Linked DNA regions of Homo sapiens: region 1 is linked to region 2. Evidence: fine-mapped expression QTL. A gene starts in region 2. The other region holds a variant in brackets. All regions are shown on one strand. Distances are between the middles of the regions. Region 1 overlaps SLC12A8 (solute carrier family 12 member 8). Region 2 holds the start of HEG1 (heart development protein with EGF like domains 1).

The links.
Region 1: its variant is fine-mapped to the expression of HEG1 in whole blood (INTERVAL, PIP above 0.99).

Annotation. Positions count from the first base shown.
Region 1 is chr3:125,138,141-125,153,874 of GRCh38, reverse strand. All of the region lies in intron 5 of SLC12A8 (solute carrier family 12 member 8), which reads left to right. MIR5092 (microRNA 5092) reads left to right here and starts at 2,323; the gene lies at 2,323-2,410. RefSeq lists enhancers at 4,945-5,034, 6,165-6,224, 6,635-6,704, 9,761-10,714, 11,285-11,514 and 4 more and a silencer at 12,065-12,294. The variant G/T (reference allele first, on the strand shown) is at 9,851.
Region 2 is chr3:125,050,343-125,066,076 of GRCh38, reverse strand. HEG1 (heart development protein with EGF like domains 1) reads left to right here and starts at 10,080. Exons shown (of 17, transcript NM_020733.2): 1 at 10,080-10,502. The coding sequence starts at 10,187. DAGARR (differentiation and growth arrest related lncRNA) reads right to left here and starts at 4,666. Exons shown (of 2, transcript XR_007096044.1): 1 at 4,554-4,666; 2 at 2,004-4,206. It also overlaps the pseudogene RNA5SP137. RefSeq lists enhancers at 9,517-9,566, 14,110-14,239 and silencers at 9,817-10,196, 10,277-10,366, 10,427-10,586, 13,920-13,969.

The DNA.
Region 1 (15,734 bases), 88 kb before region 2:
TCCAGAGCTCAAGGCCAATAATAGCCAAGTGCTATGTCACGATGCCTGCGTCATCCGCCCCACATTGTCTCGTCACATAGGCATTTTATCATCTTACAGCATCACAAGATTCTCCTGGTGAGGCAGGAGAATCGCTTGAACCTGGGAGGTGGAGGTTGCAGTGAGCCAAGGTCACACCACTGCACTCCAGCCTGGATGAGACAGTGAGACTCCATCTCAAAAAATATATAAATAAATAAATAAATACATAAATTTCATTATCTCTTAGAAGTCAGTGGGCTGCCCAGCCAGGGGCAGAACTTAGTGCGACACTTGCCCAACTCCTCGTATTTGTCTTGTACTTCCCAGCATGGGAGATGTGTCCTAAATGAAGAAGCACAAGAACATGCTATTGAGAAGAGTCCCTCAATTGCGGCCATCCTTTGGTGTTTCTGAAAGTAACAAAACAAGGCATCAGATATAGCAGAAAGAAGCACTGGTGGTAGCTGAGAGAGTTTGATAGGCAGCTACAGAAAATCCCCATACCTTGGATGTTGATGGCACGCGGTGCTGAGTAGGAAATGCAGAGGTCATTGTTTTTCAGGCTGTAAAAACCTCAAGCACAGGAATCCCATATTATTGCCGTTTTATCCTGGCATCTTGGAAAGTACCGGGCACATGGTTGGCTCTCGGTTGCACTTTGCTGAGTGACTGACTGGGAAACACACCAGAGTGGATCAGCATCCAGTGAGGCAGATGGATGGACACAGTCCTAGGAAACGTAATCTGCGCAGCTTGTGAAAGTGTGATGAGAGTTGCAGGAGAATGGAGTTGATGGAACAGATTGTCAGAGCACTGTCTCCAAAGAAGAGGAGTGGCAGGGTGGACGGAGCGCCTGGCTGCACACACACCTGTTCCGCCTCCCTTTCTTTCTTCCTCCCATCCTCCCACCCTATAGGTAGTCATCAAAGCCTACGGGGTGCCAGGAGGTAGGCTTTGGGATACAGCGGAGAATAGGATAGCGATGGTCCCTGCCCTCATGAAACAGGGAATCCATGTCAGCAATATATGCTTTTCTGATTAATGCTATCAGAACACATGCTTCTTGTTAGCCGTGTGGCTGTGGGCAAGTCACCGAAACCCTTTGAGTTTGTCCATCTGTCTAATGGAAAGAAATACCCTCCTGGAAGAGTGTTTTTTAAAGGATTAGAAATAATATGTCCAAAGTAGTTATTTTTTCTTTGAGTTTGGGGGGAGGGGTGGTTCCTTCTCTCTCTCCCCCTGCCAACTGTTTTCTAGAAAATCAGCACTTACTGGATATTGTAGAGAATAATTTTGGGGTTTTATTATTTTGAAGACGGTTTCTTCTGTTAAACTTCTTCCTGCATCCTCTTGAACTGGCAGAAATAAAAATGCTAGACTTTTAAAGATATGACACTCTAGAATCCTGATTGCTAAAAATGAAAAGCATTCTAAAGTAAATAAAATAACAAATTCAAACAGTAAATCTGTAATGACCGAATGAGCACCATTTTAAACTCACACGTACCAGAGGTGATCGTGGTATGAGGAATGAGCATGGTACATTCTGAAGCTCCTGAAGTAATCAAGGGACTTCTGTTATGGCCTAAAGCAAACAAACAGCCACCATACAAACCTATATACATTTCTATTTCTTTTCCCTCAAATTTCTACTTGAAGCAAAAGGAAAGTCACTTCTTGCTTTCTCTGCCCCAGTAACTGTGGGTGGCAGCCAGTTTTTGGAGCAGTTCTGGAGCAATTACTCTGCAATCCCAAATTCCTAGTGTATGAACAAATCTGCTCAGACATTATCAGGGAAGAAATACTGGAACCTGGATTTTAGTCCTGGCTCTGCCACTTTCTCAATCCTTGACCTTGGGGAAATCACCTAAGCGTCAGTTTCCTCCTCTAGAAAATAGAGAATAATAATATCTGCCTCACAGATTATTTAGAGATTAAATGATGTAATAAAACGTATTTCCTCAATTCCAAGTCACCATCAATTTTAATTCACACCAAATTTTCAGGTGGAAAAAAGCCTTACATTAAGTCCTCATGTTGCTTGTAAGACATCCAAATTTCAGAAAATCAAAATGTTTTTAAAAAGTTATACTCAAAATGAGCAACTACTATAAATACGATTGCCTTGGCAAAGGAAGATTCTAAATAAACGTAAGACAGTCTTGTTATCGTGGTCATCCTCCCTGGGCGGAGGATCTGCAATCTGTGCCTGGGTTTCCCTGTCGCCACCACTCTGCTAAGCAGCCGGAAGCAGGGCTGCCCCTTCAGCATTTCTCTTGAGACCTACCGCACCCCCTCACAATCCCAGATCAGATGCCAAAGCCAGTGGGGACTGGACAACATGATGAGCCCAAACCAATCCACGCTGAGCTTGGCATCTGATTTGGGATTCTCCACCTTGCAGAGAATCGGAAAGTATCTCCACAATTTCTTTTGGACCGAGCTGTTCTTCCCTTTCCATGAGTTTCTTTTACACCTGACCTAGAGCCTCTCAACCATTTTTATGTCACTGCACAGCCAGAAAATGATAATATTTGTACAGCACTCCAGGGAAAAGGGAGGAACAGTTGGGCCAAGAGGCCAATGACTTCACCATCTGGAACCCATTCAGGGCATTCCAGCGTGGCCCACCTTCTCCAATTAGCCTCCTCAATGAAAAAGAAAGAGGGGGAGGAAGAGGAAGAGAAAAGAAGAAGAAAACCCTGGTAATGTTCACTGTTTTTTGCTTTAGAATTATAAGGGCACTTTAGTTTTTCGAAGCGTCTTTATGATAATGGTCTGGTATAGTGATCAAAATACCCTTGGGCTTGAAGTGCCATAAACAAACAAGTTGTGATACTTGCGTGTGTATCAGAATCCCTGAGGAAACTTGGTGTGTGTGTGTGAGCGCGTTTCCTAATAGCCTGAGGCCCGGGAATCTGGATTGTAAGAAGTGCTCCAGGTAGTTTTTTATCATGATTTTTAAGTCAGCTCTGGGAACTACTGTCTTCGAGGCCCTTGGAAGGTTTCTCCTGGCACTCTACCTTTCATGTTCTGCATTGCTCATTCTATTTTCCCCTGTAAAGGTAGCCTTTTTGATGCAGTAGTCCAAACCTCGTCTTGCGGTGCCCTTGTATATGTGCTCAGTCCTACCCCCTAGTGTACAAGAATCGCACTGCAAGGAGTAGATAATCAGCTGACCTGTGGGACCAGAAGCTCAGCCTCTCAGGCTTGCAATGTTCTCTGAGAACAGTGTGTCTCAGCGTTTGGTTTGGAGATTTCCTGTATCGGAATTATCTAGAAACTCATTAGAAAAACAGTCTGATCCATACTCTCAAATTTTGGACTAGTAATCTACATTTTAGGTAAGCATACTGGAAATTCTTATGTACATTCAGATTTGGAAACTACTACGTATATGGGATTTACTAATCCTATTGATCTGTAAAGGGTTAATTTGACTCACACATTGTTACCTGTCTTTGACAGGCCCCTTACTGCGAAATAACCATCCATGTACACAATGGACCCCTTGGAGTAACCAGCCTTGCTTCCAATATGACTGTTGGGGTAGTAACCAGGAGAAGGTGCTTAGGCCCTAAATTCTGTCACTGAAGCCAATGGTATGATTAAAGCTCAATGTGAAGACTTGAATACAACACATCCCACCCTCATTTTAGTTTCATCTGGCAATTGAGGTGTTTTTGCTTTGGCCATTATGGGTCTCCCAATCAGAGTGGAGCTTCTAGAATAAGTATTTTTAACATAGAGTCCTTGAGCCCCTGAAGTTGCATGCAAAATTGTATGTAAATAAGTGTATTTTTCTAGGACAGGGTTCAGAACTACTGCCAGATTCTCAAAGGCATTCTTGACCTGAAGGGGGAAAGATTAAGGATTAGAACAGAGGTACTTTTCAGGGTTAGAACAGTGAAGAATTATAAACAAAGGCTCATGTCCAGGTAAGGATTTCTGAGCCTCTGCAGACCAAGCCTGACCAATTGTCCAGCATTCCCCAAAATCCACCTGCTCTCCCTCCTCTTTTCTTTGTGCCTCATCCTTTCTTCCTTTATGCTTTTCTCTCTCTGTTTTTTCTCCCCAATCCTTTTGTCTCTCTTTTTCCCCTCTGCCCCCACTTTGCCATCTCCCCATCCCTCCTCACCTTCCATTTCTTCTCTTTCTCTCCCTTCCTGGCCTGAATAGGAAGCAAAGCATGTTCTTTGACTTGTTCTACCTGTTGAATATTTTCAATATTCCACTTATTTTATGTTGGTGGTTCTTGTTTGTAAAATTATGTGAGTTGCACATTTAATATTTCTCTGGCTAGATGAGAAACTAATGCTTTAGGCATCCTTGTTCCTTGATTGTTTGGATCCAGCCCTTGTTAGAAGGCTTTCTGTGGGCAGTGGTCCCCATCACCCCTGGCCAGCAGCAGGCATGCCTTAGGCCTCCCTCTTGTTCTGAGATTGATTCTGATGAAGAAAAACTGACTGACCAGAATCCCAGACCCCTGGCTCTGAGCCCCTACCCTGATCCCAAAACCCAGCTGTCTCTACTGGATTATTCTCATTTGCTGGCTTTGGCTTGGGGATCAGAGAAAGGAGCCATGGGCTGAAGAGGCCGTGGGACCTGGTCAAGTTTGCAGAAGGAAGTGCGAGCGAGCGCTGCCCAGCTTCGACCCCCGAGTCTGCTCCCACTCTGTGACTCTGTGAGCAGGAGGGATGGGCTGGCCCGACTCCCTGGCTGGGCGTTCCGGGTATGGATGCCTGCCACATGCAGTCACCAGCTGGGGAGGGCCCTTCCACACTTCTGAGCCTCGCCCGCCTCAGCCCTGAGCAGCTGGGAGTTCCGAGGAAGCGATGGGTGACCGCTGAGGGGTGGGCCGACACATCCTGCCTGTGCCCCCCCGCTGCTGGTTTGTGTTCCTCTCACTGCACGTGGCAGGTGTCCCCTGGCTGTGGGGAATTTGCAGATTACTCTCCATGTGACTGTAGAAGCGTCCCTGAAGGCACTTCTGGCTTCACCATTTTGGGGGTACCTCCTGGGGTAGGAGGCAGGATGGTGGGTCTGTATAAAGCACAAAGTGGGATATGTGCCCTCAAGTCACTCACATTTGGGTGGGGAGCAAGGCAGCCAGCTACAGACCCAGAGAACAAGGCAGGAAGTCCTGGGCTGACAGTGGGCATGCAGAGAGTGGGCTCTGTGGTGCGAGCAGCCTGTGAGTGCTGGCCGAGGGTTGGGGGTGGGAGTGAACCCAGAGGTGGAGCTGGCAGGAGAGTGCCGCCTCCTGAGGCTGGCAGGAGATGATGCCCCAAATTGCAAATTTGAAAGTTAAATAATATACAAAGGACCCACGTGGGCCCCCCACCCCACTCTTCTCCCCACTACCCTCACTCCAGGGCCCAGACAAGGCCAGTGCTAGAGCTTCCAGGCCTGCTCGCAATCCAACTTACATGTCCCTCTTGCCTGGATCTTCATGCTCCCTGGGGACTGAGGCATGCACCTTCATCTTCAGGGACGTGTTTTGAAGAAATATTGAGGCCTCTGCCACAGGGTTGACCTAACCCCAACACATAGGTGCCCACACCCCAGGCCAGCACTAGGCAATGGGGCAGCCTCTAGACATCTCCCTGGGGATTGCATTTGCCTTTAAATCTCTGGGCCCCATAGCGAGTTGGCAAGTGGCTGTCCTTGTTGGCCTAATGTGAAAGATTGCATCACATATACTACAGTTGTCAGAGACATGGCTTTGGAGTCAGACCTCCAGGTTCAAGCTCCAGCTCAGCTATAATTTGCTGCATAGAATTGGTCAAGGTAGTTAACCTCTCTGACCTGCTCTCTTTGTTTCTGAAAAGCAGGTAATAACGCCTGCCTCGCTAGGTTGCCAAAGCATAAAATAAGATAATGTTTATAAGAGGCCTAGTGTCATGCCTGGCACAAAGTAGGTGCTCAATAAATAATCATTGTCATTATCATTGCTTGTCCTGGAAGAGTAGGTCCCTGGAGGCCCTGGGTTATACTCTAAGGCAGTGCTTCAGGATCTGGGGATCTTGTTAAAATGAAGGTTCCAATGCCGCAGGTTGGGGACCATACTTTGCATAGCAAGGTAGTTTCCTGGGGCACCTCAATCACGTTCAGTCAGGAGCAGCAGCATCCTTTCTCCTCCTCTTGCTCTCCCCTCGTGCTCTCTGGGTTGATCAGTCATCAAAACACTTCCCAGGCTGTCCAGGCAGGATGTAGGGCAGGATGTATGGTCACTGGACTCATCCAGCACCCCAGTGACTGCAGCCACCTGCGGATGAGGAGGGGATCCGGAGGGAGGAGGGAACTTGTCTCTGACCTTGAGGATTCCTAATCTGACGGGGAGATGGTACAAACACACCTCACTCTCCATAAGCGCCTGCAGAAAAGGCACACAACGGCTTGCAAAGGAACACACAGAGGCACAGGAAGGGGCCACTTCTGGTTTTCTCCTCTCAGAGCTAGAAGGCTGAGAGCAGAGTGCCCCTGCCAGCCCCACAAAGGGAAGCGGAGTGCAGCCTGAAGCTGCAAGGTCAGGTGATATGGCAGTAGCCCAGGGCAGCCCGGGTTAAAGGCACACTCACTCAAGGCCGGCTCTCATTTAGTGGCACCGCAGGTTAAATGCTGCTCCCAGGCCTTGGGTCCCAGTGACCAGGAAAGTTTTGAAAATGAGAACATGTGTTGACCCTAGGACTAGGACAACAGCGCCCTTGATTTTGCGGAAGTCTTCCCTGGAAGTTGGGCGTGCTTGATATTGAGACGCTGCACTTTGTGTTTCTTGACGGCTTTGCTGCAAATTCTCACACACCTTGCCCTTGAGTAAAACCCCAAGGATTCCAGACGTCGGCAAACTCCCGAGCACAACGGTCCTTTCCACCTAAACCCCTGAGCACACAGTGATTTCTGCCTACATTGGTGACTGGTGGTCAGATGGCTTGCTGGGCAGCTTCCCCGCCCTGCTTCTCGTGGAGGAAGGGCCTCCCTGTGGTGGGAAGAGGTGTTCCCTGTGGCAACAAACAGAGACCTTGTCTCTACAAAAAATGTACAAACTTAGCTGGGCATGGTGGCGTCAGCCTGTAGTCCCAGCTAGTCGGGAGGCTGAAGTGGGAGGATCACTTGAGCCATGGGAGGTGGAGGCTGCAGTGAGCCGTGATCATGCCGCTGCACTCCGAGGGAGGCCACAACTAGTAGGCAGGGCCTGTGGCTCTGTCCTCACCTTCCACCATCCTTGGCCAGGAAGCCCCCTTTGTCCTCTATTCCCACATCTGTACGGCAGGGAGGAGCCCAGGCCTTAAGCAAGGATGCAGGGTGCCATCTCTGAGGATCCCTGGGGAGGGTGCTGTGGAAAGAAATGGCTTGAGGTTTTGTTTGATTGTTTGTTTGTTTGTTTTGTTTTGTTTTTTATTGTGGTAAAATATCCATAGCACACACTTTGCCATTTTAACCGTTTTTAACTGTACAATTCGGTGGCATTAGTTACATTCACACTGTTGTGCAATTATCCTAACCATTTGCGTCCAAAACTTTGTCATCACCCCAAACAGAAACTCCGCCCCCACTAACTTCTGTTCTATGATACTTTCTGCCTCTCTGAATTTGCCTATTCTAGATATTTCATAGGCAGTAGTTCCCCTTATCTACAGTTTTGTTTTCTGCAGTTGCAGCTATCCACGGTCAACAGTGGTCCAAAAATAGATAAAAATAGTATAGTACAATAAGGTATTTTGGGCCAGGCGCAGTGGCTCATGCCTATAATCTCAGCACTTTGGGAGGCTGAGGTGGGAGAATTGCTTCTGCTCAGGGGCTTGAGACCAGCCTGGGCAACAAAGTGAGACCCTGTCTCTACAAAAAATATAAAAAATTAGCTGAGCATGGTGGCGCCAGCCTGTTGTCTCAGCTAGTCAGGAGGCTGAAGTGGGAGGATCACTTGAGCCGTGGGAGGTGGAGGCTGCAGTGAGCCGTGATCGTGCCACTGCACTCCAGATGGGGTGACAGAGCAAGACCCAGTCTCAAAAAAGAAAGAAAGAAAAGAATAAAAAAGATATTTTGAGATGAGGGAGAGAGACCACATTCATAAAACTTTTATTATAATATAATTGTATTTTATTATGTCATTGTTGCTAGTCTCTTACTGAGCCTAATTTATAAGTTAAACTTGATCACAGGTATGTATATATAGGAAAAAACATAGTATATATAGGGTTTGGTATTATCTGCCATTTCAGGCCTCCACTGAGGGTTTTGGAAAGGATGCCCTGTGGATAAAGGGGAGCTACTGTAAGGGGAATTATACAACATTTGTCCTTTTGCATCTGGCTTCTTTCACTTAGCATGAGGTCTTCAAAGTTCATCTGTGTTGTAGCATGTATCAGAAATTCATTCCTTTTTATGGTGGAATAACATTCCATTGTATCGATATACCACATTTTGTTTATCCATTCATCTGTGGATGGACATTTGGGTTGTTTCCATTGTTTGTTATTATTAATGTTTTATATTTTTTGCATGTCCCCTGGGGCTAGGTGCCAGAGACACCCCAGAAAATAAGAGAGCGTGGTGCCTGCCCCCACCTGGCTCATAGTCTAGTGGAAAAAACAGGCAAGTAGCCAGCCAGTAACAGCAGAGAGATGGGGACCCATAGGACATATTGGACAAGGGCTTGGCCACACTGTGTTCTGGTCTCCCCTGAGCAGCTGCTAACTTTGTGACGTGGGCATCTCCTTTCTCAGGCCTCAGCTTTCCCATCTGTAAAATGGATTTGAGGCTAAAGACTGCTGTGATGCTAACTTTCTACAGTTCTATGATACTGAATCTTTAGCCATGGCATTCTGAGGGAGGCCCTGCTTTGTTTCTTGGGTAGGACTTGGGGTGGGGGAGAGCTGCCCATGGCCTCAGAACTTGGTGGGGAAGGGGTCTGAGCATGTGAATATTTTCAGCCTGGTGCTTGGCAGGAGGGGGGCTCTGCTTACATATCGGTGTGTTGATACTGACTGCCCCTTCCCTGCAGGGGTCACTTGACCTCCCACCCCGTCTCAGCTGCCTGCCTGGCGAGGATATCCAAGCAACAGTGGGGCAGGGAAGACTTCTTGACCAGCTTGGAGCTGTGCAGGGGCAGCTGATTTGAGGGGGCCATGAGTTGAGTTAGGATTATTTTGGGGGTGTCAGGGGTCAGGAGTTGAAGCATGGGAAGTGGGATGCCAGAGGCAGAGACAGCCAGAAGGAATAAGTGGTGGCTGGGAGGAACCCACAGCCAGGGTGGAGACTTCCCGTTAAAACAGCCCGTTATCCTGGCAGGAGGGAGAGTGCATTCCTTTCCCCCAGGAGATAAGGAGGCCAGATTTTCCTTTCTCAGGGCTCCTTTCTAGGGTAGGCTAGTGGGGGCTCTGTGGGCTGGGCTGGGGCCAGGTCCCTCTGGACCCCTCTGCAGGGTCCCAGCTGGAGCAGCTGGAGCTCCTGGCACTCATCCAAGACTCCCTGCAGCCTTGGACAAGCACTGCTGCAGCAGTGGCAGCACAACGTTTGAATCCCAGTTGCCTCTCTGTGCCTCAGTTTCCTTCCCTGAAAAAAATCCATCTACCTCATAGGGTAGTTGTGAGGCTTCAATGAGTTAATACGGTAAAGCACTTGGAATGAGTGGTATGCAGCGGAAGTAGACAGCACTGTTCTCACCCCAAGATGCCTCTTGTTTCCTGGGGCCCAGGTGAGAACCTAGTGTCTCCTCAAGTCAGATTCTTTTCACATTCTTGGGCATTTGACAGCTCTTTCCGCTGTAGGCCTCTCTAGGCAAAAATCTCATCTCAGCTTACTGACCCCAAGGCCATTATGAGAAAAG[G/T]TTCATTAAGCATTTAAAATAGAGCCCGTGTTAGCAGATGGAACAATTTCTTGGTTATTAGAAACCATTCTTCATGAAGAAAAGGCTTATCTTTCCTTTCACAAATGAGGAATCCTTAGCTCAGAAAGAGCCCCGGGACTGCCCTCCTAGACCGCAGGGCATGGCAGGAGCTGCTCTTGTTATGGGACACTTTCAGCCCCTTCCCTCCCAGGCCAGGGAGGCTGCCCTGACATCCCCCAGTCTGGCCTTTCATCCCCTGGGTTGCCCAGCCCTGGGGGTCCTTCCCACTGTTTCACAACAGCCAGTCCTCCCACAGGGTGGAGGCTCTCCCCATGGCCAGGCAGGGCTCTAGGCTGCTCCTTTCTAGGCAGGCTGGGCGGGACTCCCCTGGCCCTCTGGGCAGGTCAAGCCCCACTTCAGATTTCCCTTCTGGCCACTGTTGGAATGCCCAGCCCTCCCTCTGTGTATTTTCTCTCTGGGTGGGGTCTTAGGCTGGAAACCCTGTGCACATCCTCTCTCCACCCTCTCTTTGCAGGACCAAAGTCAATAGGGCTGAAGCCAGAGAGGAGACTGTGGTCCGAGGAAGACTCCAGGCTCACGCCCAGGACTCTTTGGGGGCCTCTTCGAAACCTATCATTATTTCCTCTTCCAAATCTCCAGGCAGTGATCAATACAAAGCAATACAGCCCGATTCAGTTTAATTTCAAAACAGTCCAACGCAATACAGCCGATTCAGTTCTATTTCAAAACACTTTTATTGAACACCAATAGTTGTACCAGGATTGTTATGACCCAGTTCAATGGGAGAGCCCAACAGATTGGGACTTGATACTATCTGGACTCCAAACTGTACTCTCAATTAGGGTTACTGTTCCCCTTTTGACTCTGCGTGTCTTTTGAACAGTTGGCTTCAGCTCTGCACTTCAGTTTCCTCAGTTGTTAAAACAGGCCAATGAATTAGACCATGAAGGTTTCCTCATCTCTCTGCCCTTCCATGTAATCTCTCATTATCGGCCAGTAAGGTTTTATTAACATATGGAACTGTGGTAGTGAGCTTGTTTCACGGTTCTGGAGCACATCCTGTATCAACAATCACAGAGTCAGGGAAGGGAGGAGGGCATGTTATGGAAGCTGGTTTGGGATTTTACCTCTGCCATTGGAAACCAACTGTGTATTTGGACAGTGTGTCCTGAGAGGCCTGAGAGTGGGCTTCTGGCTGGGAAGACTTCAGAATTAGAAGGGTTCTGAAAAATCATCTCGTACTGTGCTACTGAGAGTTCGATCTGCAGGCAGGAGCGTGGCATCTCCGGGGAGCTCATTAGGAAGGCTGGGTCTCTGGCCCATGCCGGTCTCGCTGACTCAAAATTTGCGTTTCAAAGCTCCGAGGGAAAAGGGCTTGTTTACAGTCCCACAGTGAGTCCTCGCATAACCAGGGCCCGAACCCTGGTTCCTGATTCCTGATTTTGCCACTGTTCTTGCCTTCCTCCACCCAGAGATCTTCAGGGTCCTTGTGCCTGGAAGGGGGCCCTGTGCTTCACGCCGAGGGAGGATAAGCATGGCAGGGACTTCTCCCAAATCTATCCTCCTTGAGTTCAGTTTTGACTGGGCTCCTCCCTGATAACCTGTAACTGCTTCACCCTTTGCAGCTCCCAGAAGAAAAACCCCATCCCCAGCCCAGGGAGGCCAGGCCTGCTGTGTTTAATTGCCCATCTCTGTGCCTCTTAGCCCATCTGGGGCTGGGCAGTATCTGAGTGAGTGTCCGGGCGAGGATGGGGCTGCTTGGGAAGGAACTCTTGTGGGTGACAAGTGGCAGGATGGGGCCCGTGGACACTCCCCTTCCTCCCCTTTCCGCGGACCCCCTGGGTCAGGCAGTTTCGGATTGGCTGCAGATCCCCGTCTCCGTGAGGCCGCGTCTGGCGAGGTACAGGTGCTGAGAGGCGCTGGGCTGTCCAGAGGCGGCGCGCGAGGCCGGGTGCGAGGTCTTGCGTGCGCGCCGCGCCCACTTCCTTTGCTGAGGAGCCTCGCGCAGTCTCCGGGGCCTACCACTTCCCCCGACGCCCTTCGGGCGTCGTCGTGCGGGTCCCTTCCCAGAAGCGGCCTCTCCTTTCCCTTTCCTCGCAGAGCCGCTCTTCCTGCGCCCTCCGAGCCCCACCCTCCTAGCTCCGTCCGGAGCCCTTCCTCCGCGCTGGCTATTCTCGGTTGCGCCAGCCTCTCCCATTGTCCATTCGCAGGAAAGGGCTGTCTGGCTGGTCGTCGGTCGCTGGTCCAGGGGTGGGGGACCCAGAAGAGAGCGCCGCCGGAAGCCCCCGCCGCGGCAGCAGCCCGCAGCCCGCAGCCCGCAGCCCGCAGCCTGCAGCCCCAGCATCATTTTTAGAAATCTCGCTTTCTAAGTTAGTCAACAGTGCAACCCGACGCCCACAGGGAGGGGTATGACTTCCCGACTCCCTCTTCTAATTTCAGCAGCCCCCAGCGGCGTAGGGGGAGGGGATGTCGGGGGCACCGCAGGTGCCACCCAGAGCCCCTAGCAGCCGCCTACCCAGGGCAAGGGTCCCATGCCCGGCTGCTGGGCACCCCAAGCAGCCCTGCTGGAGCAGTTCTCAGTCCCACTAGTGACCCCCGCTGCCTGCCTTTGGCTAAGGGGAGGAGGGTAGGCTCCCACGAGCACCCCTTGGGAGCAGATGGTGGGCCCTGAAGAGCCACAGCCCACTGGCCGCATCACAAGAAGCCTGAATTACCCGAATTCCGGGTGGAAAGATCAAGCCTTTCTGCAGACAGAGCTTCAAGGACTTTCCCTCTGCCTGTTCCTGCCTGGGTCTTGTTGTCATTTGTTCTCTGTCTTACCCGCACCCCACCCCACCCCCCTTTTTGTTTTTGTTCTTCCTAAAAGCATACAGCTCAAACTGGACCAAAGTATTTTTATTCCGTGGATAGAGAAACAGATGTTCAGGTCAAACCCAGATCCATTCACACGCAGCAGCTGCAGGCCCCATGCATCCCAGGCCTTCGAGAGTTGAAAGATGTCAGATGACAGGACCCCAGACCACAAGACTCAGTTTCACCAGCAGAGGAATTGAAAGCCCAACAGAGAGGCAAAGAGACTCTTCTGAGGTCAAAAAACAAGTGTTGGAAATCCCTGGGGAGGCTAGACGTGGTGGCTCACGCCTGTAATCCCAGTGCTTTGGGAGGCCAAGGTGGGAGGGTTGCTCGAGGCTGGGAGTTTGAGGTTGCAGTGAGCTACGATAGTGCCACTGCACTCCAGCCTCGGTGATAGAGCGAGACCCTGCCTCTTTAAGAAAAAAAAGGAAAGAAAGAAAAGAAAAAAAAAAAGGAAATTCCTGGGGAATGACTTTGGGATGGATTACAGAGGGTCAGTGTGGTAGATGGAGGCCTGAATTCACTCAGATGTGGGGTCCAGGACAGGCTGTGTCCTCCCAGCTGTGTAAGCTCCAGCCAGTTGCATACCGGTAGGCACATGGTGTTCCACAGGATAGGACTCCTGTCTGCCCTACACAAATGGGGCCGGGGGAGATGCCATGATCTCTGTGGGCATGTTTCCTGGGGCTGAAAGGCAACCTGTGCTGTAAGGGGGTGCAGTGCCAGGGCCTGGGAACCCACCTCCTGGAGAGAGGCCTGGCTTCTGCCACCGGGAGAGGCAGTGGGTGAAATACAGGCAGATCTGGCTATGTAACCCTCGGACAAGCTTTTTCACGTTCCGGAGCCTCAGTGTCCTCAGTTAGTCATCGTACAAGTATGACATTGTAAGGTCTTGTTGTTCAGTGGCTGGCACGTAGGAAGGGTTCAGTCACTGGTCGCTCAGCATTATTTTCAGAAGTGAGGTTGCCCTGTGGTGTCCTTGGAGTGACCTGCACAATCTCTGTGCACACAGTCTTGGCCATTGCTTGGCAAGGACTGTGGCATGAAGACATTATTGGCTATGTCACTCTCAGGGCTGCTGTCCACTCTGAGGCAGGGCATGGTGGCAGTCAGGCCTTGGGAAGTTGTAGGTGCCTCCTGGCGGGACAATCTCACGTGCAGATGTAGCTGCTAGAGTAGAGGTCTCGAACCTTAAGGTCCATGCTCTCCAGAGAGGCTTCAGAAATCTGCCCTTCCCCAAAATGGTATGCAAAATGTGGTGTCTATGGGGACAGGGACCATGGTATTCATCAGACTCTCAAATGGGGGCAACTAAAAGAATTAGGAACCTTTGTTCTGGGCATCAGCAAGTCAGGCATTAAGAGCCACTGTCGGAGGGCATGGCAGGCGGCATGGACCTCAGCCCTACCCTGGGTGTGACCCACTGACCTCACACCATGCTTAGCTAGCCAGTACCGGCCAGTCAGAGACATGAGTGCCTCCCCTGGGCACCCACTCTGCATAAGCCCAACAGAGAGTCAACCATGCCTGAGGTCTGGGTGGGCCACCAGGTTCAGGGTGTGGGAAAGAGACCCAGGCCCCAGCAGGCAGGATGGGGACCAGTGAGCAAGACTCTTTGGGGACTGGCTCAGGACAGGGGACCGTGAGGTGGGGTGGTGATAGGTGAGGGGTGCAAGTCATGAGGGCCTGGGAAAATAGGGGCAGAGGAAATGAGGCAGGGTCCACTGTGCCAGCTTTGGGGGCTCCTTGTTGTCCACTGGAAAGTGGCCCATGTGAGGGATGGGCCACCAGATCCAATGCCCTGCCTCAGTGCGCTTGGTCAAAGAGTTAGAAAATTCTCTCTGAATAAGGCCTCAGACTGTGGGTCATGGAGGTACGACTGGGGGTGTTCTCACCCTCTCTCTCTTTTGCTCAGTTTCTTTCTTTCTTTGGTCCTTATTTTATTTTTCCTGTCTTGTTTATGTTTTTCTCATAAGCCACTCAAGTCATTTTGGGAAACAGAGTACAAACGGAAAGAAAGAAAAGCTCTTCATACATAGAAAAGCTGACGAGAAAGTGGGCTTTCAATTGTGGGATGTTTTGTTTGTTTTCCTAAAAGATATTTTTTGATGACAAGTAGATTATGTTCATTTAAAAAAATTATTTTGTCACCCAAACTGGAGTGCAGTAGCATAGTCACAGCTGACTGCAGCCTTGACCTTCTGGGCTCAAGTGATTCTTCCACCCCAGCCTCTTGAGTAGCTAGTACCATGCCCTGCTAAGTGTGTGTGTGTGTGTGTGTGTGTGTGTGTGTGTGTGTGTGTGTTTTGTAGAAGGGGTCTTTCTGTGTTGCCCAGGCTGGTCTAAAACACCTGGGCTCAAGCAATCCTCCCACCTCAGCCTCCCAAAGTGCTGGGATTGCAGACATGAGCCACTGCACTCAGCCCTTTAACTTAAATGTGGATGTTTTGTAGAAATAAAAAAAGAAAGTACAAGAATTGCCTGTAATTGCATTATACAAACAACCACAGTTAGTATTTCGGTGTGTTTTCTTCTAGCTGTTTCTTACATGTATAGATTAATACACCTTTTTTTGTATTTATACTATGGCATCCAGTTTTCTGAATTAGCATATAGTATATATAACATGGACAGTTTTCTCTTATACTAAAAACTCTTTATAAGCATTTAAAATGTCTCAGTTCCACATAAACATTTAGAACCTCCTCTGATTTTTTCATTTTTTATTTATTTTTAAATTTTAAAAAATTGAGATGGAGTCTTGCTCTGTTGCCCAGGCTGGACTGCAGTGGTGCAATCTTGGCTCACTGCAACCTCTGCCTCCTGGGTTCAAGCAATCCTCTCGCCTCAGCCTCCAGAGTAGCGGGGACTACAGGCACACCCCATCACGGCCGGCTAATTTTTGTATTTTTAGTAGAGATGGGGTTTCACCTTTTGGCCAGGCTGGTTTCAAACTCCTAATCTCAAGTGATCCACCTGCCTCGGCCTCCCAAAGTGCTGGGATTACAGG
Region 2 (15,734 bases):
ACTTGGGTGGGAGGGTGCCCTGCCTATCTTCACCAGTGTGTGGACTCCAACAGCCCGCATAAACTAACAGATGATCCATGCTGGCGGAGAGTGAAGAGTCTTAGATTGGCTCTGATGGTCAGCAGACATGGAGTCCTGTCTCCTGCCCACTCTCGTCAGATCCTTGCTATATGAGGTTGGGCAGTGTAAGGTAGAGGATGGGGCACTGGCTGGTGTCTGAAGACAGGTCCAGACCTGGCCTTCTGTGCATCCTCTGTGCATCCTCTGTGGGTTTTTCCTCTGTGGGTTTTTCCTCTGTGCATCCTCGGTGCATCCTCGGTGGGGTTTTCTGTTGCTCATCTAGACCAGGAGCCCCCAACTAATGCGAGCCACCTGGAAGGGGAAAAACATGGCACAGGCCACATGTTCCCACTTGCTCATGTGAAATATAGACCTTTGGAGATTGGACATTTTGAGACATTTCTCTTTTGTGGCCCACAGTGGATCAGGGATTCGGGAGCTCTCATGTCTAATGAAAGTCAAAAGTTCAAAATTTTAAAACAGATAAGAGCATCACATTGTTGCTGTTAATTTTTTCTTTAATAAGAGAAATAAATACATTATTATTATTATTTAACAGGGTCTTGCTGTGTTGCCCAGGCTGGAGTGCAGTTGCATGATCATGGCTCACTGTAACCTTGAACTCTTGGACTCAAGCGATCCTGCCTCAGCCTCCAAAGTAGCTGAGACTACAGGTGCATGCCACCATGCCTGACTAATTTTTATTTCATTTTAGTTTTGTAGAGACAGGGTCTCACTATGTTTCCCAGGCTAGTCTTGAACTCCCGGGCTCTAGCAATCCTCTTGCTTAAGCCTCCCAAAGCATTAGGATTATAGGCATGAGTCACCACACCTGGTCATTATTTTTTGCATGACACCTTAAAAATTTTTTTCCTCATATCCATCATCTCATTTGATTGTTACAGTTACCCTGTGAGGTAGTAATGCCTACCAATGACAGGCATTACCGTTCATATTTTACAGATAAGAAAACTGAGACTCACTGAGGTTAACTGATTGGCCTAAAGTTGTAGAACTAGAGAATAGAGAAGCCAGAAGGAAGACTCGTGTTCTGTCTCGTACTCCAGAGCCCTTTTATGAAAACATCCCACTTGGCCATCCCCATCTTTCCAAATGGAAATAGTTTTCTTTGTTCTTTCCTGATTATAACAGTAATACATGCCATCAAAAGACACATACATGAATTTTAACAGCAGCCTATTTGTAACAGCTGCAAATGGAAACTACCCTAATACCTATTAACAACTGAAGAGAAATTGCGGGATAGCCCCACAATGGCCACCACCTCACAAAGACAATGAAGAGTCCATGCCTACATGCAACAAAGAGCGTGAAGTCCTGAACAGTAGAAGCTAGACACAAACTAATCCATATGACTGCATTTCACTTCCATAACATACAAAACCAGGGATTTGGTCTTTTATCAAAGACAGGAGTCCATGCTGAGAGAAGTGAGGGCAGTGGTGACGCATGTGGGGGAGAATATTGAAAGGCAACATAAGCAAGTTTTAGTCCAAGATGTGGCTACACAAGTGTGTTCAGTGAGTGAGATTCTTGGAGCTCTGCATGGCATTTCATGGGCACTTTTTCACGGGCATTGATATGGTTTGGCTTTGTCCCCACCCAAATCTCTTCTTGAATGGTAGCTCTCATAATCCCCATGTGTCATGGGAGGGACCTGGTGGGAGGTAATTGAATCATGGGGGTGGGTTTTTCCATGCTGTTCTCATGATAGTGAGTAAGTCTCACGAGAGCTGATGGTTTTATAAAGGGCAGTTCGCCTGCACACACTCTCTTGCCTGCGGCCATGTAAGATGTGACTTTGCTTCTCCTTTGCCTTCTGCCATGAATGTGAGGCCTCCCTAGCCATGTGGAACGGTGAGTTCATTAAACCTCTTTTTCTTTATAAATTACCCAGTCTCATGAACTTCTTCACAGCAGGATGAAAATGGACTAATATAGGCATCGTATTTTAATAAACAGTTTTAAAGAATTACACATACTCTTATAAGAAATTCAGACAACACTAAAGAATACAAACATTTTTCAATCAATTTTAGAACTAAACACCAGAGAATGTGAAAGTCTATTCCACCAACCTAAGAAAAATGTATCTAGTTCTGTATCAACAGTCACTTAAGGAGAAGAAACAGAAGAGGGAAGGAGAAAAAAATGGGGATGAATTGATTGGAAGTAAGGCAGACTGATGGAGAGGTAGAGGAGTGGCTAGGCTGGGAAGCACTTGGTGACACAAAGGGAGACTTGAAGAATAGAGACTGAGAGACCCAGAAACAGACTCAAGAAGAGATACCTGCGAACAGAGAGTGACAGCAGAAAAGCCAACAGAATGAGGGCCCAGGGGGCTGGAGAGGAAGAAGAACACATCCAGACTCACAGAGGGAGTGAGGTAGAGAGGCGTGTGGATATTGCACCCGACTGTCAACCTGGACTGTGTGGGGAGAGGAAATCATTGCTGCTTTTTGAAAGTCAGGGGAGCTTTGCAGTCATGTGGAAACACTGCATTTCCAGTGACTCCATCAGAGCCTGGCGCTTGGGACATGTTCAGCAAATATTTGTTGAGTGAGTGACTGATGAACAGATGATTGAAAACTCAGGTCCCTCTGCCCACAATGGGAGCTCCACCTCTAGACTTTCTGCTCCTTCCCTGGGGCCCTGGACACTCTGCCCAATGTTGTGGCATCCCAGGAATTTCCCTGCTTGCTGTGGGGAGGATGTTTCACACTGGAAGGTTTTGCAAAATAGGACTGCTTTATCAGAATCCTGTTGCACCGGAGAATGTTCCTGGCTCATTGATGTTTACAGTGTGTAACCACTTTTATCAAAGGAATGTTGTTTGGAATGGAATGGTCCTCTCAGATGGGCAGACAAGAAACGGAAGGTCATTTGAGGACCTGCCCCAAGCTGTGTTAAGTTGGAGCTCCGGGTTGCTGTGTATGATGTTTGGGAGCCTGGCCAGCCCATGAGCAACCCTTCCTCCCTGGAGGAGGTTCCAGCCAGTTTTCAGAGGAATTGCAGTGTTTACATTCTCACCTTGGACCTGCAAGGCAAACACCCCCGGAGCTCAGCACTGGTGGGTGGAGAAGCAGCAAGGGCTCCCTATGCCCGGGGTCCAGCAAAGAGGTCAATGCAGCCTGGACAAAATGACACTGGTCCTGACATTCCAGAAAGGAGAGAATAAGGCTTCTTCTGGGGGGTTAAAAATAGGGAGATGGGTTTATTCCTTTCGTTCTTTGGTGAAAATCCCAATGCACCTGCTTCTTGGAGCTCTGAACAAAATAGTGCAGATGTAGCCCATGTGCCATGGAGGGCTGGAATTCTGCTCTTCTGTGACATCTCTGGTGCTGTGGGGCCAGCTCTGCAGCTCCTGTCTTCAAGAGTTCTTCATGTACCTTGGGGCAGAGAAAGGGACTGAATGGGAGGCAGAGATGGAGGCTGAGGCAGGAAGGGAGGAAGAGTCAAGAGAGGTCACAAGGTTCTGTTCTTGTGGGAGGGAAACCTGCCCTGCAGCAGGAGAGGGCTGGGGTGCCCCAGCTCTGCCCAAGGATGCCGGTCAGCAGAGAGGAGCAAGTGGGAGAGCAGCTGATGCCGCAGCATACTCTCACTATTGGTTTATCTTCACCAGTCCCCATGGGCCCGTGACAGCGCTGGGCATGCTCGGACATTTCTCTCCCTCTCTACAACCATTTCTAAATGTCTTAATGATAATGGATAGAATTATGTCTCCCCAAAAGATATGTTCAAGCCCTAACTTCTGGTATCTGTGAATGTGACCTTATTTGAAAATAGCGTCTTTGCAGATGTGAATAAAATAAGATCAGACTGGATTATAAGGGGTCCTAAATCCAGTAACAGCGTCTTTCTAAGAAGACCATGTGAAGACAGACACACACAGTGGGAAGAAGACCACATGATGATTGAGGCAGGGGCTACAAGCCAAGGAACAGCAAGCATTGCCAACCACCGCCAAAGCTAGGAAGAGGCAAGGAAGAGCTCTCTCCTGGAGCCTTCAGAGGGAGCATGGTTCCGCTGACATCTTGATTTCAGAATTCCAGCCTCCACAACAGTGACAGGATACATTTCTGTTGTTTTAGGCCACCCAGTTTGTGGGACTTTGTTACAGCAGCTCTAGGAAAAGAATACATTGGTGTTTCTCAAAATTTCAAATCCCTCAGGCCCGCCCCTACATTCCCTCCACTCACAGCAAGTAGCCTCTCTTACAAGTCAAGTCCCCTACTTTACCAAGAAAACTGAAGTCCCCAGAGGGAAGTCCAGGCCCTGCAGTGCCCCACGCTCTCCTCTTTTCCTCCTCCCAGGCCAGTCTGTCCACCTGGGCTACGGAGTCCATCCCCTCCTGCTTCTCAGAAACCTTATCCCATCACCTTTGACTTTCTCCCTCCCACACAGACCATTTTCACGTCCAAATGTTCCCCCTAAAAACAAGAACTCCCCTCTACTCATTCCCCTGTACTTACTGTCCCAGCTCACTCTCCCCCTTCAGAGCCAAACTCTCTTGAAAAGTTATCTCCACCAGCTCGGCTTCCTCAGCTCTCGCTCCTCCCACTGTTCTCCATGTGGATTCTGCTCTGAACACTCCTCTGAAGTCACTTTTGTTATGATCACCAGTGACTTCTATGTTGCTAAAACGAATGGCTATTTTCAGTCTTCACCTCACTTGACCTTTCGGCAGGATTGCACACTGTGAGCCAGGATCTCCTTCCCTTTGCTGGGGTGATGTAACCTTCTCCTGGGTTTTCTCCTATCTCTCAGTGGCTCCTTTCCAGTCTTTTTTCTGGCTCAGCCTCCTCTCCCAGCCATTTCATGTTGTGTCCCCCAGGACTCATTTTCAGCCTGTCTTCTCTGACTATGATACTCTCTTCCCTACTTAATTCCATCCCCTTGTACTCCAAACCTTAAACTTGGACCTCTCCCTTCAGTTCCAAGTCTGCAGATTCAAATAGTTCTTGTCCACCGTTCCCTCTCCTTGTGAATGGTACCACCATCCATCCAACCCATGCAAACCAGAAACCTGAGAAACCTTGCCACTCTCTCTCTCTCCCTCATCCTCCATGTCCATCAACATGTCTGGTGGATTTTACCTACTGCAATCTCTCACATCCATATTCTCCTCTGAATTCACTTCTATTACTCTTATCCAAGAATTATCACTTCCCACCTGGACTCCAAGAGTCCGGGCATGAGTTCTTGTTTCTTTCTAAATTATTCCTCTTATTATAGTTAGAATGATGATTTCCAATCCCAAATCATGTCACCCCTCGCCCCTTAACTCCTCCTCCTCCTCCTCCACCTTCACTGTACTCTACCTTCTCTACTTAACACTTTATAATGACTTCCTTAAACTCTTAAAATAAATAAAAAATCCTTAAAATGAGCTGTTAGGTCTCCCTGATTTAGTTCCTATCAAAGTCTCCAGGCTTACCTCCTTCCATGCTCTTCCTCACTCTCTACCTCAGCCACAATGGCTCTCTTCCAGTCCTTTCCATGCATCCCACTTCCTCCTGCCTCAGGTGCTTTGCATATACTCTCCCCACTCTGCTTCGCCTGGTTAACAGCCTACACAGCTTTCGGATCAGGGCTCAATTTCATGTCCACAGGGAAACCCAGCACACCCTCCTGAGTGCTCTCCTTCGAGCACTTACACATGACAAGTTTACATTTATACTCTTAATTACTGTCTGTCTCCTCCAAACCCTTAAGCTCTACGATGTCACAGACTTGCCCAGCACTCAGCACAGTGCTGGGCACAGTGTAGTCACTCAGTAAATATTTGTTGAATGACTAAATAAAAGAAAGTCTTATGTTGGATTTTGAGGATATAAAGATGAATAAAGCACAGAGCATCCCAGAAAGCACCTTGTAGATTGAGAGTGGGAGGGGACAAGCAGATGAGAGGATGAGTAAACAGACTCAGGGTTTAATAGGGTGATGAGCAGATAACAGAGAAGCCGGCCAGATGCCCCAGTGGAGACAGTGATCTGTGGGCCCAGCCTACCTGTCCCTAGGTGAAACTCAATCCAGGGGTCTATTAACTGATCTGTCAGCCCTCAGGGACCCGTAGTCACCAGAGTCCTGAGTGTCCGTAGGATATTACTGCTGTGCATCTGGCACTGCATCCCAGCCATGGCAATGCCAACCCACGTGAAATCCTGCACAGGCACCATCCTCAGGAACTGGGCACACCGTGGGGCCAGGTTAGAATGCAGTGTTATAAAAGGCTCTGGCTACAATAAGGGCATCATGCAGAGCACTTTAGTCAGAAGAGTTCCTGGTGCCTTCTGGTCAGTGATCTCATCATATCCTCAGGACAACCCCAAGAGGCAGCAGAGGGAAATGATTTTTCTCCCCGCTAGGCAGCTAAGGAGACAGATCAATAGAGATCACCTGACTTGGCCAAGAAATGAGAATCGCTTTGGAACAGAACTTAGAGAGAACCCAAGGTCCTCTCTGTCAAGTCTACCAGTCAGACCAATCAGCAGAGGAGGCCTCCTCAAGCTGCAGGTCTGCTGTGGCAGGAACCTGCACAGTTTGTTCACTTTGGTGTGGAAGGACATTTCATGGCCCCTTCACACCACTGAATGTTAGATTAGATGGGCCTTGAGAGATCATTTGATTCAACACCCTCATAAAGAAGGAAACTGAGACCAAAAGATGAATCTTTTTACTCTCCCTTTCTTTCCCTGCCCTACTGATATCTAGAGGTAGGGCAGAGATGGTTAGCGGTCTACCCAAATCCCTTCTCCCCTTCTTTGCCTGTATGGTTAGACTACATTTCCCAGCCCCCTGTGCAGTTGGGTGAGCCATGTGACCATGCTCTCTCCAGTGGAATGTAAGAGGAGATGAGGCACTTCCAGACCGGGCCCACCAAAACCTCCTCTGCTCACACCACCACATTCTTTTCACCTCTGGCTGACTGGGATGCCAATTCCCAGAGCAACTTTGGAAGCCATACTAGAGTATGGCAGAACCACCATAACGTGGATGCATAATGTGGATTCTTGTTCCTTTAACAGCCTTAGACACTGATGTTCAGCTCAATGGACAGCTTCTTCACACAGCCTACTGAGCTGAACATCGGTGTCTAAGGCTGTTAAGGTAACAAGAATGAAACACATGGTGCTAAGCTGCTGCATCTGGGTGGCCTATTTGTTACTATAGCCTAGCCTAGTCTGATTAACACAAGTAGAGGCAGGAAACCCCTGGCGAAAGCTCTGACTACATCAAGTTTCAGGTGGCAAAGACACTGGGCTCCCTGCTGATTTCACTGTCAATTACATTGGGGTGCCCCCACTCCTACCTGTGGAGAGGTTAGGAATGCCTGTTAACTCACTCAGTCCTGGAATTTGTTCTGGGCTGTCTTCCCACCTGTTTTATCCTAGATCAACAGATTCCCAGGGCTGGAATGGGTCTGAGAAGTCGTCTGATTTATGACCCTGGCTCCAGATAGGACCTCTCAAGCTATCTGAGATGATCAAGAATCTTGTCTGGATTTTCATATCCCTGGGAAGAAAACACTACAAATGTTCTTAGATAACTGTTTTAGTCTATGGCTGTACCACCCTAAAAGTGCCTGATATTTTCTGATCTCAGAAACTAAGCAGGCTTGAGTCTGGTTAGTACTTGGATGGGAGATACCTATTTCATACCTCCTTGCTACTGTGCCAGAAGTTCTTTACTGAACTCTAAAACATCAGAGCTAGAACACTCCTTAGCAATCATCCAGGACCATCTTTGTTTTAGAGATTGGAAACTATGGCCCAATCACACAATTAAACAGTGGTAAAGGCCAGAAAAGAAGCAAGGGCTCTAGGACCAAGTCAACTGTTCTTTCCAAGGTTCTATACTGCATCCAGTTCTCTCTTGCTGTCTTGCTGTTTTCTCTTGTTCTGCCTTAGGAGGAGAAGAAAAAGAGCTGAAATCCATCTACACCTTGATCAATCTTTCCAAGTTCTCCCTGTGTGTCCCTCTCCTAATCTGCTTGTTAAGCCCTTTCTAGCTGACAGTTACCCTGAACTCGGTCATTTCTCTTAGAAGGCAGAGAGAAGATTAGAGAGAGATAAACCTGTGGTACTTAAAGTGGGGTGGGATTGGGGGGTGGGGGAGGATTGGGGGGAGGTGGCAGGTACATGTTTACTCCTTGGGTCTTAGTAGAGAAGGCAGATTATCTCATAGGATCCCTGAATCCACACGAGAAGCCTGTAAGGGCCATTCTACCCTTAAACCTTTCCACTTGCCTGGGAGTGCAACCAGTACTATGTGACATGGTCTCCTTGGAGGGGAGGGAGTGGCAGTGACCAGAACCTCTGAGCACAGTCCTAGTCTGTTGGGGCTTGTCTGGCTGGGTCTGGGCAGCTGTGCAGTCCTGCCTGTTAATGTGAGAGCAGCATCCAGAGAAGTTAAGCTCAGGCCATGGGAGCAAACCAAGTCAGTTTCAGGGAGATTACTGTTTGGTACTTTCTTGGAGAGACCTGGAAGTTCTGTGTTAGAGCCCTGGAAAGCTGGTTTGTTTAAAAACAAAACAAAATAAAACCAAATCTTTACTCCTCATTCTCTCATTTAAGGTGAGTTTGTTTATACACAGCCTCCTTTATGTTTTTCTGCCAAATGACTCACTTGTACTGAGTCACCAGAAAGTGGGCCTAGGCCCATCTGCAGCTGCCCTGGACACTACGATCTCATTCTCCTGGAGGTGGGTCATGGAGATCTGGAGACAGAGAAAAAGAGAAGAGCAGAGAAATAGGATGGAGAGCCAGGCCTGACAGTGAGGTGCATACTCATATTTTCACGAGCATTTGGTTGTCAGACAGGGGCCCCCAACAGAACTCGCAAGAACCCCAAGGAGCTGCAACATTTGTTTCTGTTGCAATACTATTTGTTTCCGTTTGCGAATTATTGCAAACTCTGAATTAGGAGACCAGAATTAATAATATCACATGGTCATTCACAGATCAATCATTTCGTCTTCGGGTCTACCTTCAGAATCTTGAGCAAGTTATTTTCCCATTTGAGCCCCTCTTTCTTCACTTAATGAGGTGGCTTACAGTCCTAAACTTTAGACAGTTTATTATTCATTTACTGGGGAGGGAGAGGTTATGGAAACAAATGGAACTTTATTGACCAAGAAAATTTGTTTACATGAAATCTTTGAATCTTTCCCCATAGGTTTCCATTTAAAATTCTGTGTTCTCTGGGCATCATTTGGTTTAATTTGCGATCTGCAGTTCTTTTCCTGATGATGAGTTTGCCCTAGCCTGCCTGAATTCACAGTTTTCTTTTCCCTGCAGCCTGTTTGGGTGTCCTCGCGGTGACATCTCTGCAGAACTCTGGTGTGAGCCAAAGGCAGTGGTCGGATGGGAACGGCATCCAAGCTTGAGAGGGCGTGGGGGATACTCGGATTCTCGCGTTGGCCGGAGGGTGAGGTGTTAGGTTTGGCAAACACGAGCTCATCACCAGCCCTGGGGCCTGAAGAAGGGGAGGTGGGGGTGGGAGTGGGGACACTTCAAATCAATAACGGCGGTGACAGCGCGGGCTGGGTACCAGGGGACCGTTCCCTTTCTCTCTCCTATCAAAGCACTTGGGATAATCTAGTCTGGTGCTAATCACATTACCCAGGACCTGCTTTTCACCTACTTCTTGTGCGTTTAAGGAGTTGGGTAGGTGGTGCCCGATTCAGAAGACTCTGGAGCATGTGTGTGACAAAAGTTGCAGCACCGTGGCTCCGCTGACCTCATCCCGCTGTCCCGGGCCGGGCCGCTCTCCAGGCGCCCGGCCCCAGCCCCCTTCCTGCCCTCTCCCCGCCTCCGGGCCCGCCGCGCGGGGCCGGTGATGTCAACTGAGGAGGAGCCGCCCGCCAGCCAGCGACCCGCCCGGGCTAATTAGCATGTAGCGGCGCCGCGGGCCGCCTCCGCCCAGCCAGCCCGGCCCCCGGCAGCCCTCCCGCGGCTCCCGATAACTTTTGAGGCGGGGAGCGCGCTCGCAGCCTCACTCCGCTCACTTCCCCGGCCCCGCGCGGCCCCCGCCGCCCGCTGCCCGCTGCCCGCTGCCCTCGCCCCGCGCGCCGGGCATGTGAGCGCGGGCGGGCGCCGTCACCATGGCCTCGCCGCGCGCCTCGCGGTGGCCGCCGCCGCTCCTGCTGCTGTTGCTGCCGCTGCTGCTGCTGCCGCCGGCGGCCCCCGGGACGCGGGACCCGCCGCCTTCCCCGGCTCGCCGCGCGCTGAGCCTGGCGCCCCTCGCGGGAGCGGGGCTGGAGCTGCAGCTGGAGCGCCGCCCGGAGCGCGAGCCGCCGCCCACGCCGCCCCGGGAGCGCCGCGGGCCCGCGACCCCCGGCCCCAGCTACAGGGCCCCTGAGCCAGGCGCCGCGACACAGCGGGGACCCTCCGGCCGGGCCCCCAGAGGCGGGAGCGCGGGTGAGTGAGAGCCGGGAACCTGGCGCCTGGCCAGTCTGTGCTGGGGGCGTGGGCGCGCCCCGGGCTGCATCCCCAGCCGTAGGCCCCTCCGCGCGGCGCGACCCAGGGTGGGGGCTCCTCGCCCGGCGTGTGCGGGACCCTGAGGGTCGGCGGGTAGGGAGGGACGCTTTCGCAGTTGGCTGGACTGAGGGGTGTGACTATCCCGTTCTCCTCCAACCCTTTGGAAGAAAACTTATTTCCTATGGGGTACCCTGTATCTCTTCCACCCCACTTTAAAAAAAATGGAAAGGAAAGGGAAAAAGACTGCAAAGCATCTCTCCCACCTCCGATATCTGGCCAGCCGGTCCCCAGTTTCATTTTTTCCGCTATACAGAACTGGCCTCTCCAGGTACAGGGCTCGACTTTCTCATCTAAATAACTGATTTTTAAGGGGTTCTAGGACGGGATATTGTAAAGGACAAAGGATGTACGTAGTTTGAAACAAAACGCTCTACTGGTTCGACTTAAAAGCAAAGGAACGCGGTTGGGGTTGCATGGTTGAACCCCTGCAAGGCACAGGCTGATACAGGACCATCCCTGAGCCTCCTCCCTCCCCTTTCCTTTCCCAATGAACTGTTGCTCCGTGGTAGCCACCGCCTGTCCCACGCAGAGAGAAGGAACTGACCTCTTCTCCCTGCTACCTTTGTGTCCAGTTCTTTCTTATGATCTGGAAAAATATGCCACATACTGAGTGGAATTCTAACCATAATACCATTATGACCTTGGGACTGCTGTCTCTTTGCGCTCACTTTCTCCATCTGTGAAATGAAAGTGATGATCCCTGTTCCTTCTAGCCTCCTAGTGATGATGTGACAAAATGAAAGTAAAAATAAATGGAAAGTGCTTTGAACAAAGTCAGCAACGTGGTGGTGTTAGCCTTTGCCTTCCTGTGAGTGACACAGGGCATATGCTCTGTCCGGGCTATTCAAATAAGCTGGGTTGCTTGCAACACTGGACATTGATTTGGAGTTTCCCTGAAAGTTGAGTTTTTTGTCTGCATAATTGACAATTCATTTAAGTTTCTCATCTCATGCAGACTTTCTGGCACGTGAATTAGCTTGCTTCCTCCAACCTAGAGGTGCTTCTTAGAGTTAAATAAGAAAAAGTTTGGATTTTTAAAAATCAAGTTCTCCTGTAAAAACTCAATTTCATATTCAACAGTATTCCCATTATCGCAAAATGCCTTATTTTGTGAATTTTTAAATCACTGGCATAAGATTGAGAAACCGAGGAACAGTAAGAAAAGGGAGAGGAGAGATAAGCTTCTGAAGACGTGTAGGAGACACATCCCGGAGTGACTGTGACTTTAGATTACTTACAGCATACGCTGTTTTGCTAACTTCCACGGGAAGGAATCAAGAACATAAAACAACATATTTCCCGACTTTCTCCAACTAGGAAAGTAACTGAGGAACACTGTGTAGTATTTTGTGAGTTTTTCTAAACAGAAGGTGAACTGCAGAGAACTGAGAACATTTCAGAGGAGACACCCAAGAGCCGAAGGCAGATTTCTCTGGGTAGTAGTCAGGCTGTCTTAGCTGAATGGCCTCCATCTTGTTAGGGGATAGGTGGGAGGGACACTGACTTGCAGGGGCCCTGGCTGGATGGGGCAGGCACATGAGTCTCTTTCCTTCTCTTAGGGGCGGGATCTCTAGAGAGAGGTAGGTATTACAGGTATTACAGAGAGGTAGGGACAGTGGAGGCAGCTAGCTTAGAGGACTCAGCTGGTAAGAATTGGGGCCTTATGTGACCCAAACATCCCTCACAGGTGTGGCAGGTAACACTGCTGGTCTTGGTTTTGTGGCTTTCCCAGTTTGATTCCTTTGCAGAGGTGAGTGATGGAGGCTTCAGGTATATGAGGTACTGGAAGGAATACATGTGAGAATCCCAGAAAGCAGCGAGAGAGTAGTTGGAATAGTGTACACCTTCTCTTACCTAGGTAGGTTCTCTTGGTCTCCTGGTGCCCCACAGACACCACCCAAGGAGTGCCTCCTCTTCAGTGGCTCAAAGGCCCAATCTCTGAAGGGATGTTAGGAAGGTGCGATTAGAAGAGATGAAATGAACACCTGTTGAAGCTGCTAGAAGCTACTCATATGGCCAAGGATCTAGGCATGACCTGTGCTTTTTTTTCTGGTAGTGGCTCAAACAGTATCATTTAGGGGTAAAAAAGAAACAACACATAAGAAAACCAGTGTTCAGTGATTTCAGTGAGTCTGAGTTTTCTGATAACCAGGATTGGGAGCCTTTTGGATGGGTCCTCCTGTATCACTAGATGCTATCACTCATTTCACAAGGCAGCAAGGTCTCAATGCTGAGAGGGCCTCCACAGGTCCTCCAGTCTGCAATGTGTCCCATGCAAATGTCTGCCCCTCCAGCACCCCTGACAGATGGTCATCCCGGCTCTCCCTCAGCATTTTTGTGTTTGGGGAGGCACCATGCTACTGTCACTAACAAGCCCTGAGTCTTACAAGTAACGTGCTCCATTTGGTTGTTGGAGAAGCTTCCTGCAGGCCTTTCGTGCCATGGGGATGCTGGTAGTCAGGGCCTGGCCCCTGGGACTTCCAAATACACTGATGTCAGCAGCAAGGGCCACAGATGTCCTTTTCTTCCCTGTGGGCCATTTCCAGCTCTTCTCTTCCTGGCAGAGTTCAACTTCTCACTGCTGAGTAACCGCGTTTGCATTCCATTATGTGGATTGTTTGCCTGTATTAGACTGTAAGTCCCTGGAGAGCAGCTCCCTGTTTATATAGCCATTGTTAAGCTTTTGCACCCACCCGTCACCCTGCTGGCTGTTCAGCTGATGTTTATTGCTGGTGTTTCAGCCAGTGGTGACAAGATGCTGAGACCTAGAGGTTTTCTTTTTCTGCGTGTGTTTTTCTACCACTCAGGACTTCCGAGCCACAGTTCTAAGCTGAATGCAAAGTTTATATGCCTTAATTTTGTGATCCATATGCTATGCTTTAATTGTGAGATCTGCAGATGAGAGGGAGAGAAGGCTTAAATCATAATGAAAATCAATGCAGAAGGAAAGAACTTTCCCACCCAAAGGGGAAATGACGCTGAGTAGCTGAGCAGCCAGCCCGAGAAACAATAATCTTAGAAAAATGCAGCTCCCTGGAGGAAAGGAAGCGCTTTGAGCTGAGCCCCGTCTGAGCTGTTAAATAGCTGTCGCCTGAATTGCTCTAACTTTGTGGGCCAACTTCGTCATTTAGCTTGGCTGCTGGGAGAACCATTACAAGGTGCAGCGGGCAAGAGACAGCCCCTCAGGGAGGGGAGAGTGGCTTCCCTCCAGAAGGCGGCTACCTCACTCCTGGCGGAGGCTTGGGGGTGGTGGTAGTGGGGATTCCTGAGAAGCCTGTTTGCTTTGATGGAGGGTGTCCCAAATAGAAGGGGGGGAGGCGGGAGGGGGCAAGGGACTCTCCGTGGTGCATGAGTGTTTAAAAGCCACATCCTTTTTACCTTGCAAGAACCCTTTTATTGCTTTCCTCAGCCTGTGTGCACATGCTGAACTGTTATGTTTTGCCAGAGACCCGAATGGTGTGGACTGAGGGAGACTGAAAGGTATTTGCTGCCCAGCTGGGCAGTTTCTGCATCCTTGTCCTGGAGGCTGGGGAAGGAGCCTCTGCCCTCCTGGTGATCCCTCCTGCCTTCCAGCAGCCCCGCCCAGCTGGCTGAAAACAGTGTTCCTGAATTTAACTTGTCCTTGTCCAGAGACACTCAGAAAGAAAGCAAAGAACAGATGGCAGTTGTGGTTTTGTTAGCCACTTACTGCCTTCTTCAGTGGCTTCCCTCTGTCTCCAGCGTCCTTTTTGTATGAATGGGAGGTTTCAGCTGCAGTAAATATTCTCTTCCAAGAATCCTGGGGAGGCAACAAGGAAGGAAACTAGTTTTGGGGTCTGACTTTTGACTCCCTGGCCTTTGAACACGTATGTGTGGTCGGCGCCTTCACACTCCTTATCCATTTAATCCTCAAAACAAGCCCGTGAGGGATGTTATTTGCCTTTTACAGTTCTGGAAACAGTAGCCTGGAGAGGTTAGATCACACGGTAAATGGAGGCGGCAGGATTTTAATAGATTTTGACCAAATCCATGTGCTTGTCCCACAATATCAGGAGGTCTCAGTTTTCTCATCTGTAAAATGGGGTACCAGTTGTCCTAGATCTCTAAGATCCTCTCCTGCTCATCATTCGTCTTCCTCCCTCCCTCCATTCCTTGCTCTTGCTTTTTTGTAGAGATTAGGGGCCAGCATTGGCGTGGGGAAAATATGAGGAGATGGCAGTGGCAATGAGGACACCTATTGAGTAAAAATTTTTTAAAAATTTTGTTTGAAATTACCTGAGACAAGACCACAAGTCTTTAAAATGACATTTTATATAGAGATTGTAAATTATGCCCTACTCATATGCCAATCCATAGGTTATTGATGCCAGAGGTTGCTGCATTAATTATAAGCCAAGCTGAAATGAATTGGTGACTTTCTTAATGGGCCCTCTCCTGGGAACGTGGAGCAGTGGCTGACATTGTGAGGCAGTTGTTATGAATACCTGCCCAGTAGGAGGCGAGGTTAAATGGTACTCCATGCAGATGCTGTCAAATTGCTTTCATTTGAACATCTATGCTCTCTTCTACCCACTCACCATTCATCAGGCATAGACAGAAACAAAGACATTTCTATCCTGTTTTTTCACTCTTCTTTTGTTGGAGTGTGGCAGATGCCTCTATTTGTGTCACATTGGACTGATTTGTAAATCAAGATATATTTACAGAAGCCTTGCTATGTGGAAGAGCCGTGTGAGGTGATGAGGTTGCAGTGCCTGTCTGTGATGCCCCCAGGGAACATTCAGTCTTGTTGGAGCACACACATCAAGATTGTAAAAAGCGAAATAACGATGCATGAGTGATTCACAACTGAAGAAATGCCACAGGAGATCATACTGACCAAAGGAATGGTGAGGGTGGAAATGGGCTGCTGCATGCAGACGTGGAGACCACTGGGGGCTGGATAGTCCAGGGAGACTTCAGTGGGAAAGGGGGGAGTTGATTTAACTTTGAAAGTTGACTGGGATGTGGATAGACAGGGAGGTGGAGGATGGGCTGGGCATGATGGCTCACGCCTGTAATCTCAGCACTTTGGGAGGCCAAGTCGGGTGGATCACTTGAGGTCAGGAGTTCCAGACCAGCCTGGCCAACATG